Regions from separate parts of the Homo sapiens genome. Here region 2 is reported to be linked to region 1. The links are microRNA targets in miRTarBase. Many come from high-throughput screens and were not tested one by one. Region 1 holds a microRNA gene; the other region holds the end of a gene's coding sequence.
What was found. Region 1 holds the annotated microRNA hsa-miR-5586-5p (UAUCCAGCUUGUUACUAUAUGC, at 1,623-1,644, opposite strand). A microRNA usually pairs through its seed, bases 2 to 8, with sites in the 3' UTR of a target mRNA and lowers its output. Matches are read on the target gene's strand: a 7mer-m8 pairs with bases 2 to 8, a 7mer-A1 pairs with bases 2 to 7 and ends in A, and an 8mer does both.

Region 2: miRTarBase lists CATSPER4 as a target of hsa-miR-5586-5p. Seed matches in the 3' UTR shown: 7mer-m8 at 4,710-4,716.

Annotation. Positions count from the first base shown.
Region 1 is chr14:59,645,377-59,650,903 of GRCh38, forward strand. MIR5586 (microRNA 5586) reads right to left here and starts at 1,644; the gene lies at 1,586-1,644. All of the region lies in intron 3 of RTN1 (reticulon 1), which reads right to left.
Region 2 is chr1:26,202,201-26,207,463 of GRCh38, reverse strand. CATSPER4 (cation channel sperm associated 4) reads right to left here. Exons shown (of 10, transcript NM_198137.2): 10 at 4,500-4,975. The coding sequence ends at 4,922. Among named protein-coding and RNA genes, the nearest start is that of CATSPER4, 14 kb to the right of the region's middle. RefSeq lists an enhancer at 5,037-5,263.

The sequences.
Region 1 (5,527 bases):
TTGTTACATGTTTTCTATATATTACATGTTTTCTATATGTTACATGTTTTCTACATGTTACATGTTTTCTATATGTTTGTTACATGAGTCCCTGTTCCCGTATCTCCTCACTGGGCAGGTTCTCCCAGCCTGGGTCTCCAGCCTTTCCCCACTGGAGCTATTGAGCCAGTAGCAGTTCTTCAGCTCTCTGGGACAGAGCTCCCAGTGGGAGGGGTGGGTTGCCATCTTTGCTGTCTCACAGCCCTCACCCTTCTTGTCTCCAGGCTCTAGAGAGTCCATGGGGACCCGGCACTGGTCTGAACCCCCAGCACAGAGCATCCACCTAATGGAAAAGTGTCCATACTGTTCTCCACGCAGGTCCTGGTCCTCACTTCTCTTCACTGGGCAGAGTTACCAGGCCCAGGACTCCAGTGCAACCACTCTGCCCCTGCCTGACCGCTTCAATCAGAGGCAGCCCAGCAGTTAAGAGAACACCTAAATGCAGAGATGAGAAAGAACCAACACAAGAACTCTGACAAGTCAGATGACCAGAGTGTCTTATATCCTCCAAATGACTACACTAGTTCTTCAACAAGGATTCTTAACCAGGGTTGGCTGGAATAACAGAAAGAAAATTCAGAATACTGATAGGAACAAAGATCATTGAGGTTCCAGAGAATGGCAAAATCCAATCCGAGAAAACTAACAATCAAAATAAAATGATACCGAAGCTGACAGATAAAATAGCCAGTATAAAAGAACTCATCTGATAGAGCTGAAAAACAAACTGCAAGATTTTCACAATGCAGTCACAAGAATTAACAGCAAAATAGACCAAACTGAGGAAGAAATCTCAGAACTTGGAAGACTGGCTCTTTTAAACACGACAGTCATATACAGATAAAGAAAAAATAATGAAAAGGAACAAATAAAACCTCTGAGAAATATGGGATTATATAAAGAGGCCCAAACTATAAATCACTGGCATCCCTGAAAGGGATTGGGGGAAAGCAAACAACTTGGAAAACATATTTCAGGATATCTTCTGTGAAAACTTTCCCAACCTCACTACAGAGGCCAACAGTCAAATTCAGGAAATACAGAGAACCTCTGCAAGATTCTCCATAAGAATATCATCACCAAGATACACAATCAGACTTTCCAGGGTCAAAATGAAAGAAGGAATGTTAAAAGCAGCTAGAGAGAAAGGGAACCCCATCAGGCTAGCAGCAGACCTCTCAGCAGAAACCCTACAAGCCTGAAGAGATTGGGGGCCTATATTCAACATTCTCAATGAAGAAAATCTTCAACCAAGAATTTCATATCCAGCCAAACTAACCTTCCTCAGTGAAGAAGAAATAAGATCCTTTTCAGATAAGCAAATGCTGAGGGAGATCATTACCACCAGATCTGCTTTACAAGAGATCTTGAACGAAGCACTAAATATGGAAAGACCATTACCAGCCAATTAAAAAAAAACACAAGTACAGAGGCCAGTGACACTATAAAGCAACCACACAAACAAGCTGGCATAAAAAACAGATAACAATACAATGACAGAATCAAATCCACACATATCAATAATAATCTTGAAGGGGTCTTGCTTCTTTAACCAGCTTGTCACTCTGTGCCCCATTTAAAAAGCATATAGTAACAAGCTGGATAAAGAAGCAAGGCCCAATGGTATGCTGTCTTCAAGAGACCCATCTCACATGCAGTGACATCCATATGCTCAAAATAAAGGGATGGAGGAAAATCTACCAAGCAAATGGAAAACAGAAAAAAGCAGGGGTTGCAATCCCAATCTCAGACAAACAGACTTTAAACAAACAAAAATCAAAAAAGACAAGAGCGTTACATAATGGTAAAGGGTTCAATTCAACAAGAAAACCTAACTCTCCTAATACGTATGCACCCAACACAGGGACACCCAGATTCACAAAGCAAGTTCTCAAGAGACCTGCAAAGAGACTTAGACTCCAACACAATAATAGTGGGAGACTTCAACACTTACTGACAGAACTAGACAGATGATCAAGGCAGAAAATTAACAAGGATATTTCAGACCCAAATTCAACACTGGACCAAATGGATCTGATAGATCTCCACAGAACTCTCCACCCCAAAACAACAGACTATACATTCTTCTCATCACCACATGGCACATATTGTAAAGTCAACCACACAGTTGGTTATATAACAATTTTCAGCAAATGTAAAAGAACTGAAATCATACCAAATTCACTCTTGGATAGCAGTGAAAATCAAGACTACAAAAAACTCAAAACATGCAGTTACATGGAAATTAAACAACCTGCTCCTGAATGGCTTTTGGGTAAATAATGAAATTAAGGAAGAAATCAAGAAATTCTTTGAAACTAATGAGAACAAAGATACAACATACCAGAATCTCTGGGACACAGCTAAGGCAGTGTTAAGAGGGAAATTTATAGCACTAAATTCCAACTTAATATCAAAAGTTAGAATCATCTCAAATGTATAACCTAACCCTGCAACTAAAAGAACTAGAGAAGCAAGAGCAAACCAACTCCAGAGCTAGCAGAAGACAAGAAATAACCAAAATCAGGGCTGAATTGAAGGAGATCAAGACATTAAAAGCCATGAAAAAATAAGCAAATCCAAGAGTTGGTGTTTTGAAAAACATTAATAAGGTAGTCCACTACCTAGACTAATAAAGAAGAAAAGACAGATCCAAATAAACACAATCAGAAATGACAAATGGGATGTTACCATTGACCCCACAGAAATACAAATAACTATTACAGACTATTATGAACACCTCTATGCACACATGCACACAAATTAGAAAACCTAGAAGAGATAAATAAATTCCTGGACACATATACCTTCTCAAGACTGAACCAGGAAGAAATTGCTTCCCTGACCAGACCAATAATGAGCTTTGAAATTGAATCAGTAATAAATAGTCTATCAACCAAAAAGTCCAGGACCAGATGGATTCACAGCTGCATTCTGCCATTAAAATAAAGAAAGAAGAGCTGGTACCATTCCTACTGAAACTATTCCAACAAAATGAGAAGGGACTCCTCCCCAACTAATTCTGTGAGGCCAGCATCATCCTGAAACCAAAACCTGGCAGAGACACAACAAAGAAAACTTCAGCCCCATATCCTTGATGAACACTGAGGCAAAAATCCTCAACAAAATACTTGGAAACTGAATCCAGCAGCACATCAAGAAGTTAATCCACCATGATCAAGAAGGCTTTATCCCTGGGATGCAAGGTTGGTTCAATATATGCAAATCAACAAATGTGATTCATCACATAAACAGAACTAAAGACAAAAATCACATTATTAGTTCAATAGATGCAGAAAAACTTTTGATAAAATTCAACATTCATTTATGTTAAAAACTCTCAATAAACTTTGTATTGAAGGAACATACCTCAAAATAATAAGAGCCATCTATGACTAAACCACAGCCAACATCATACAGAATGGACAAAACCAGGAAGCATTCCCCCTGAAAACTGGCATAAGACGAGGATGCCCTCTCTCACCACCCCTATTCAACATAGTATTGGATGTCCTGGCCTTAGCACTCAGGCAAGAGAAAGAAATAAATGGCATTCAGGTAGTGTGATGCCACTAGCTTTGTTCTTTTTACTTATGACAAGGCTAGAGTAACCAAAACAGTATGGTACTGGTACCAAAACAGATATATAGACCAACGAAACAGAACAGAGGCCTCAGAAATAATGCCACACATTTACAACCATCTGATCTTTGACAAACCTGACAAAAACAAGCAATGGGGAAAGGATGCCCTATTTAATAAATGGTGTTGGGAAAACTGGCTAGCCATATGCAGAAAACTGAAACTGGACACCTTCCTTACACCTTATACAAAAGTTAACTCAAGATGGATTGAAGACTTAAAAGTAAGACCTAAAACCATAAAAACCCTAGAAGAAAACCTAGGCAATATCATTCTGGACACTGGCATGGGCAAAGACTTCATGACTGAAACACCAAAAGCAATGGCAACAAAAGCCAAAATTGACAATTGGGATCTAATTAAACTGAAGGGCTTCTTCACAGCAAAATAAACTATCATCAGCATGAACAGGCAACCTACAGAATGGGAGAAAATTTTTGCAATGTATCCATCTAACAAAGGTCTAATATCCAGAAGCTACAAGGAACTTAAAACAAATTTATAAAAAAAAACCATCAAAAAGTGGGCAAAGGATATGAACAGACACTTCTCAAAAGAAGACATTTATGTGGCTAACAAACATTTGAAAAAAAGCTCATCATCACTGGTCATTATAGAAATGCAAATCAAAACCACAGTGAGATACCATCTCATGCCAGTGAGAATGGTGAGTATTAAAAAGTCTGGAAACAACAGATGCTGGTGAGGATGTGGAGAAATAGGAATGCTTTTACACTGTTGGTGGGAGTGTAAATTAGTTCAACCATTGTGGAACACAGTGTGGCAATTCCTCAAGGATTTAGAACCAGAAATACCATTAGATCCAGCAATCCCATTACTGGGTATATACCCAAAGGATTATAAATCATTCTACCATAAAGACATATGCACATGTATGTTTATTGCAGCATTATTTATAATAGCAAAGACTTGGAACCAACCCAAATGCCTGGCAATGATAGGCTGGATAAAGAAAATATGGCACATATACACCATGGAATACTATGCAGCCATAAAAAAGAATGAGGTCATGCCCTTTGCAGGGACTTGGATGAAGCTGGAAACCATCATCTGCAGCAAACTAACACAGAAACAGAAAACCAAACACTGCATGTTCTCACTCATAAGTAGGAGTTGAACAATGAGAACACATGGACACAGGGAGGGGAACATCACACACCAGGGCCTGTCAGATGTGCAGGGAAAGAAGAGGAAGAGCATTAGGACAAATATCTAATACATGCAGGGCTTAAAACCTAGATGATGGGTTGATAGGTGGAGCAAACCACCATGGCACATGTATACCTATGTAACAAACCTGCACATTCAGCACATGTATCCCAGAACTTAAAGTAAAACTAAAAAATAAAATAAAATGCATTGAAATAGGAAGACAGGAAGTCAAACTATTTTTTGTTTGCAAATGACATGATTCTTTATCTAGAAAATCCCATCATCTCAGCCCAAAAGCTCTTTAAGCTGATAAACAACTTCAGCAAAATCTCAGGATACAAAATCAATGTATAAAAATCACTAGAATTCCTGTACACCAATAACAGCCAAGCTGAGAGCCAAATCAGGAAAGCAATCCCATTCACAGTTGCCACAAAAAGAATAAAACACCCAGGAATACAGCTAACCAGGGATTGTAAGATCTCTACAATGAAAATTACAAAACACTGCTCAAAGAAGTCAGAGATAACACAAACAAATGGAAAAACATTCCATGCTCATGAATAGGAAGACTCAATATCATTAAAATGGCCATACTGGCCAAAGAAATTTATAGGTTCAAACCTATCTACCAATGACATTTTTCACCTAGGCAATACCACTCAAGACATAG
Region 2 (5,263 bases), not on the chromosome of region 1:
ACTCAGAAAATTGGAGGCTGGCCAGGCATGGTGGCTCACGCCTGTAATCCCAGGATTTTGGGAGGCTGAGATGGGAGGATCACCTGAGGTCAGGAGTTCGAGACCAGCCTGACCAACATGGTGAAACCTCGTCTTTACAAAACACACAAAATTAGCCAGGCGTGGTGGCACACACCTGTAATCCCAGCTACTTGGAAGGCTGAGATAGGAGAATCGCTTGAACCCGGGAGGCACAGGTTGCAATGAGCCAAGATCATGCCATTGCACTCCAGCCTGGGCAACAAGAGCAAAACTCAAAAAAAAAAAAAAAAAGGAAAAGAAAAGAAAAGAAAAAAAACTGGAAGTGACCCAGCCCAGGTGGCAGGCTCATTCTTTGTCCTTCCCATCGCCTAATTCTGAAGATGCACCAACCCTTCTTTTCTGGCACCATCCACACCCTCACTTTTTTTTTAGAGACAGAGTCTCAGTTGCCCAGGCTGTAGTGCCGTGGTGCAATCATGGCTCACTGCAGCCTCAAACTCCTGGGCTCAAGTGATCCTCTTGCCTCAGCCTCCTGAGTAGCTGGGACTACAAGTGCGCACCACCACACTCGACTAACATTTTTCTTTTTATTATTTATTTATTTATTTGAGATGGAGTCTCACTCTGTCACCAGGCTGGAGTGCAGTGGCGTGATCTCAGCTCACTGCAACCTCTGCCTTCTGGGTTCAAACAATTCTCCTGCCTCAGCCTCCCGAGTAGCTGGGACTACAGGCGCACCACATTGCACACACATTGCACCACACCCAGTTGATTTTTTTTTTCCTCACTCTGTCACCAGGCTGGAGTGCAGTGGCACAATCTCAGCTCACTGCAACCTCCACCTCCTGGGTTCAAGTGATTCTCCTGCCTTAGCCTCCCGAGTAGCTGGGACTATAGGCGCATGCCACCACGCCCAGCTGATTTTTTTCTTTTCTTTCTTTCTTTCTTTCTTTCTTTCTTTTTAAAGACAGATTCTCACTCTGTTGCCAGGCTGGAGTAAAGTGGCACAATCTCAGTTCACTAAAACCTCCACCTCCCGGGTTCAAGTGATTCTCTTGCCTCAGCCTCCTGAGTAGCTGGGACTACAGGCGCGTGCCACCACGCCCAGCTAATTTATTTTTTATTTTTTTAGTAGAGACAGGGTTTCTCCATGTTGGCCAGGATGGTCTTGATCTCTTGACCTCATGACCTGCCCCCCTCAGCCTCCCAAAGTGCTGGGATTACAGGCGTGAACCACTGCACCCAGCCTTCTTTTTATTTTTTGTAGAGATGAGGTCTCACTATATTACCCAGGATGGTCTCAAACTCTTGGCCTCAAGCAATCCTCCTGCCTTGGCCTCTAAAAGTGCTGGGATTGTAGGCATGAGCCACCTTGCCCAGTCCCACACCCACTTTCTTCTGGCCCTGTGCAGAGCTAAGGGATTGCAACAGGCCAGGGGAATTGGCAAGGATGCTTGGAAAGGGTAGGGGGACCTACGCTCTACACCTGGCTCTATTACTGGCTTGCTGGGTGACGCTGGGGAAGGTCTCACCTCTCTCTGGGCCTCCATGTTCCTCTTAGCCTAGTGAGGGACTTGGCTCAGTGTGGAGGAGCATTGTAAACTCTAGTCATCTGTGGGGTCCATTTGCAACAAAGATCTAGTTTGCACTGAACCTATATGTCTTGCTATAGGGGTCTCAAGTTTTTATTTGCAGGGAGGGATGTTTCCACTGAATCTGACTTTATGTTTTTTCCATATAGTTAATCAGTTATCCCTGCCCCCTTATGGAAAAGTCCATCTTTCCCCCAACCAACACCACATTATCTTACTGTTACTTTATAGTAAGCCTCAATATTTGGTCGGGTGAGTCACCCATCTTGTGCTTCAAAATTATCTTGACAGGCCGGGCGCAGTGGCTCTCACCTGTAATCCCAGCACTTTGGGAAGCCGAGGTGGGCAGATCACTTGAGGTCAGGAGTTCGAGACCAGCCTGACCAACATGGTGAAACCCCATCTCTACTAAATACAAAAAATTAGCTGGGCTTGGTGGCGCATGCCTGTACTCCCACCTACTCGGAAGGCTGAGGCAGAAGAATTGCTTGAATCTGGGAGGTGGAGGTTGCAGTGAGCCAAGATCGTGCCATTGCACTCCAGCCTGGGCAACAAGAGCAAAACTCCGTCTCAAAAAAAAAAAAAAATTATCTTGACTATTCTTGGCCTTTTGTTCTTCCTTACATATGTTAGGATCAGCTTAACAATTTCTACAAGCAACCTGTTGGAATTGTGATTGGAGGTGCCCTGCAATTATAGGTTCAGTGAGGATTGACATCTTTATGATATTGAGGTTTCCTGCCCACAGAAGCTCCCTTGAGAAGTGTGACCTGGGCTCTGAAGTCAGACCTGGGTTAGGATCTCAGTTCTGTGATGGAGGATAAGTCCCCCGTGGGGACATATCCTCTTCATACCCACTTCACTGATGGTCATGAGGATGAAATACTGCGTGTGAAGCACTCAGCACCATGCTTAGCACCTAGTAGGTACTCAATGAGTAGAACTGCTATTGGGAATGATTATCCCCTGCTGCTCCTGTCATCAGAATTGGTGTCTGCTTCCTGGACAGTTTGCCAAGGATGCTCCTGTCCCTGGTAAAAGTTATGGACTCATAGGGAGTCCCCAGAGGTCCACTGATTGTAGCTGATGGGAAACCCATCAGGTGAGACCATAGGGGTGATGAGACACACAATTTCCAGCCACCTCCCAATATCTTCCCCCGCACTGTCCTAGGAGCTCAGAATCCGGGGCCCCACTCCTAACTCAGGCTCAGTAAGGCATGGGGAGTGGTAGTTGCTCTTTGCTGGAGTAGGGAAGGGGAAGGGGAAGGGGAGAGTATGACTTCCTGGGCCCTCAGTTCCAGGCCAGTTTGGGAAGGAACTAGCCTGCTGAAACTCCAGGCTGTTAGGTTGGCCCGGATGGGAAAGACAAAGGCAGAGACAGATGAGATGACAAACAAGATGAAGGGAGTAGATAGACAAAATAGCATCCTGGAGGAGATAGATGGTCAAGGCCAGGAGCTCCATGGAGGTCACCCTGCTGTGCTCCTGACTGTAAGCTCACTGATGCTCCAAGCCTTTCAGACAGTTAGGGGTGAAGGATAGCCATACTCAAACTGTTAGCTCCTCCTGAAGACACCATCTGATCTGCCACCTTCTTCCCTCTCTGGCCAACAAGAAGAGGGGCTGAGAGGGCCCCCAGAGAAAGATGGGTGGAAAGAGTATGTAGATACTCACCAGGCAGGTTGAGGGCGCCATCTCCAGTAAGTAGCAACAGCAGCAGCAAAATCCGCTGGGTGCCCTTCTCTGTGCTGCTGATGGTCCTGGAGGGTGCTGGGAAGAAGTCCTGGCTCAAACAGGGGAATAGATTAACGGCTCCGAGACAGTAAGGCACTGCTGGCTCTGTTGCTGCCTCTCATCTGCCTACTGAGTGCACCATCCATCCCCAGGGGCCAGACTCCTTCCCAACAGACCCCAGGGGGCTTTTCAGAGTTGGAACCAATGCTGATGGGAGGACGATGGGGGGTGGGGTTTCCCATCAGCTGCAATCAGTGGACCTCTGGGGACTCCCATTCCAACTGGTGAATATCGCCACGGCCCCTAAGTGTCAGGCTTCGCTGAACAACAGGGCAGATGTCCAGGCCTTCCAGGCTATCCCCTGACACCTGCATCCCAGGGACATAGCTGATCCCATGGGTCTTCCACTTCCTGGGATAAGAGGGGATTATTTGATTTTAGAGATGGAGATCAATCTCACCCTCTCTCCATCGCACAGATGGGGAAAACAAGGCCAAGTGACTCACTGAAGGACCAGAACCGAGGTTTCCTGTCCTCCAAGGCAGCTCTTTCTATTGCCCATAACTGCCACAATTTTCTGACTCTCCCCAGATTGCATAGCTCAGGAACCTGCTGAGGCTCTCAGTGGCCTTGAGTATGAAGATCCCAAATAGGCTTCACAGGTCCTAAGTTCCCCACCAGACTTCATTCATCTGACCCGCAAAATCTTCCTCTCCTCTAGGAAGCTGCCAGGACCCACATTTTAAGTAGTCAGTCTCCATTGCCCTAGGATGGAGGTGCCTGTACTTGTGTGACTTGGTCATTGGTGATCCCATCAGACAAGGGCTCCCCAGAGTGAGGACCAGTCTCCATCTTCAGACAGGGAGAGAGCAGGTAGGGCCATCTCCTTCATCAGACAGGGGCTCCCTCCCATGAGGACCAGACTTTCCTCCACAAAGCTTAGGACCCTGAGGGCAAGGGTTATATCTCTACCATTAAGTCAGAAATTTTTAGGGGTGCAATTCTCCCTCCCATTAGACTGGATGCTCTTCAGGGCAGCCTGTGACTCTCCCACCAGACAAACGGGATTTTGAGGGGCAAGATCTGTCTTTCCTATTAGACCCAGGCAAGTGCCCCAAGGAGTTGGAGATCCACCAGTCAGAGACATTGATTCCAACACAAAACTTTATTGTCAACACACAGATGTCTGGCCCCACTGGCCTTGCCTTTCTCTTCTTGGTTCTGGGGCCCACTGAGGCCCCCCACCAGCTCTGGGCAAGAGCAGGGGGCCAGGGATCCCCATCCTTAGGTCAAATCCTGGCTGCGTTGGCCAGCACCCCCTTCTGTGCTCATCCTTGCTGCTAGGGTTCCCACTCTCATCATCCAGCATCCTCCTCTCTCCTTGCTCCACCGGACCTGGGGCTCACAGGCACCAGACCTGCAGGTGCTGCCACCTTCACAGCCCCTGGCCTCTGCCCAGGTATAAGGGAGAGGATGGGCTCTGGCCAGGCTCTGCCAAGCCACACTAAGGACACAGGAAGACGCAGCGGCTGGGTGTGTGTGTGCAGGCCCCTTGGCTCCCATCCTGGCCTCTCAGTGGCTGCTCTTGTGTTTTTTAAGGAGTATTTGTGAGCTAGAGTCATGAACCTGCAAACCAAGAGGTCTTCTTGTTAATCCCCCACTCCCCCCGATATGGCAGCCTCCGTTACTCACCTCCTCCAGTCTCACCAGCTTCCCCAGCCAGGCCTCCCAGAGAAGTGCTTCATAGGTCTAACTTGAGCCTACCTAGTACCCCCTCTGAGTTTGGGAGCCCAGGGTATATCCCAGGCTGATGGTGTGGAGGGGCAGAAAAAGAAACTAAGTAACGTGGGTGTGTGCCTTTTTCTCTCCAGGAGTTCAGGAGACAGCTGGTTTTGTGCACCTTAGATAGGATCC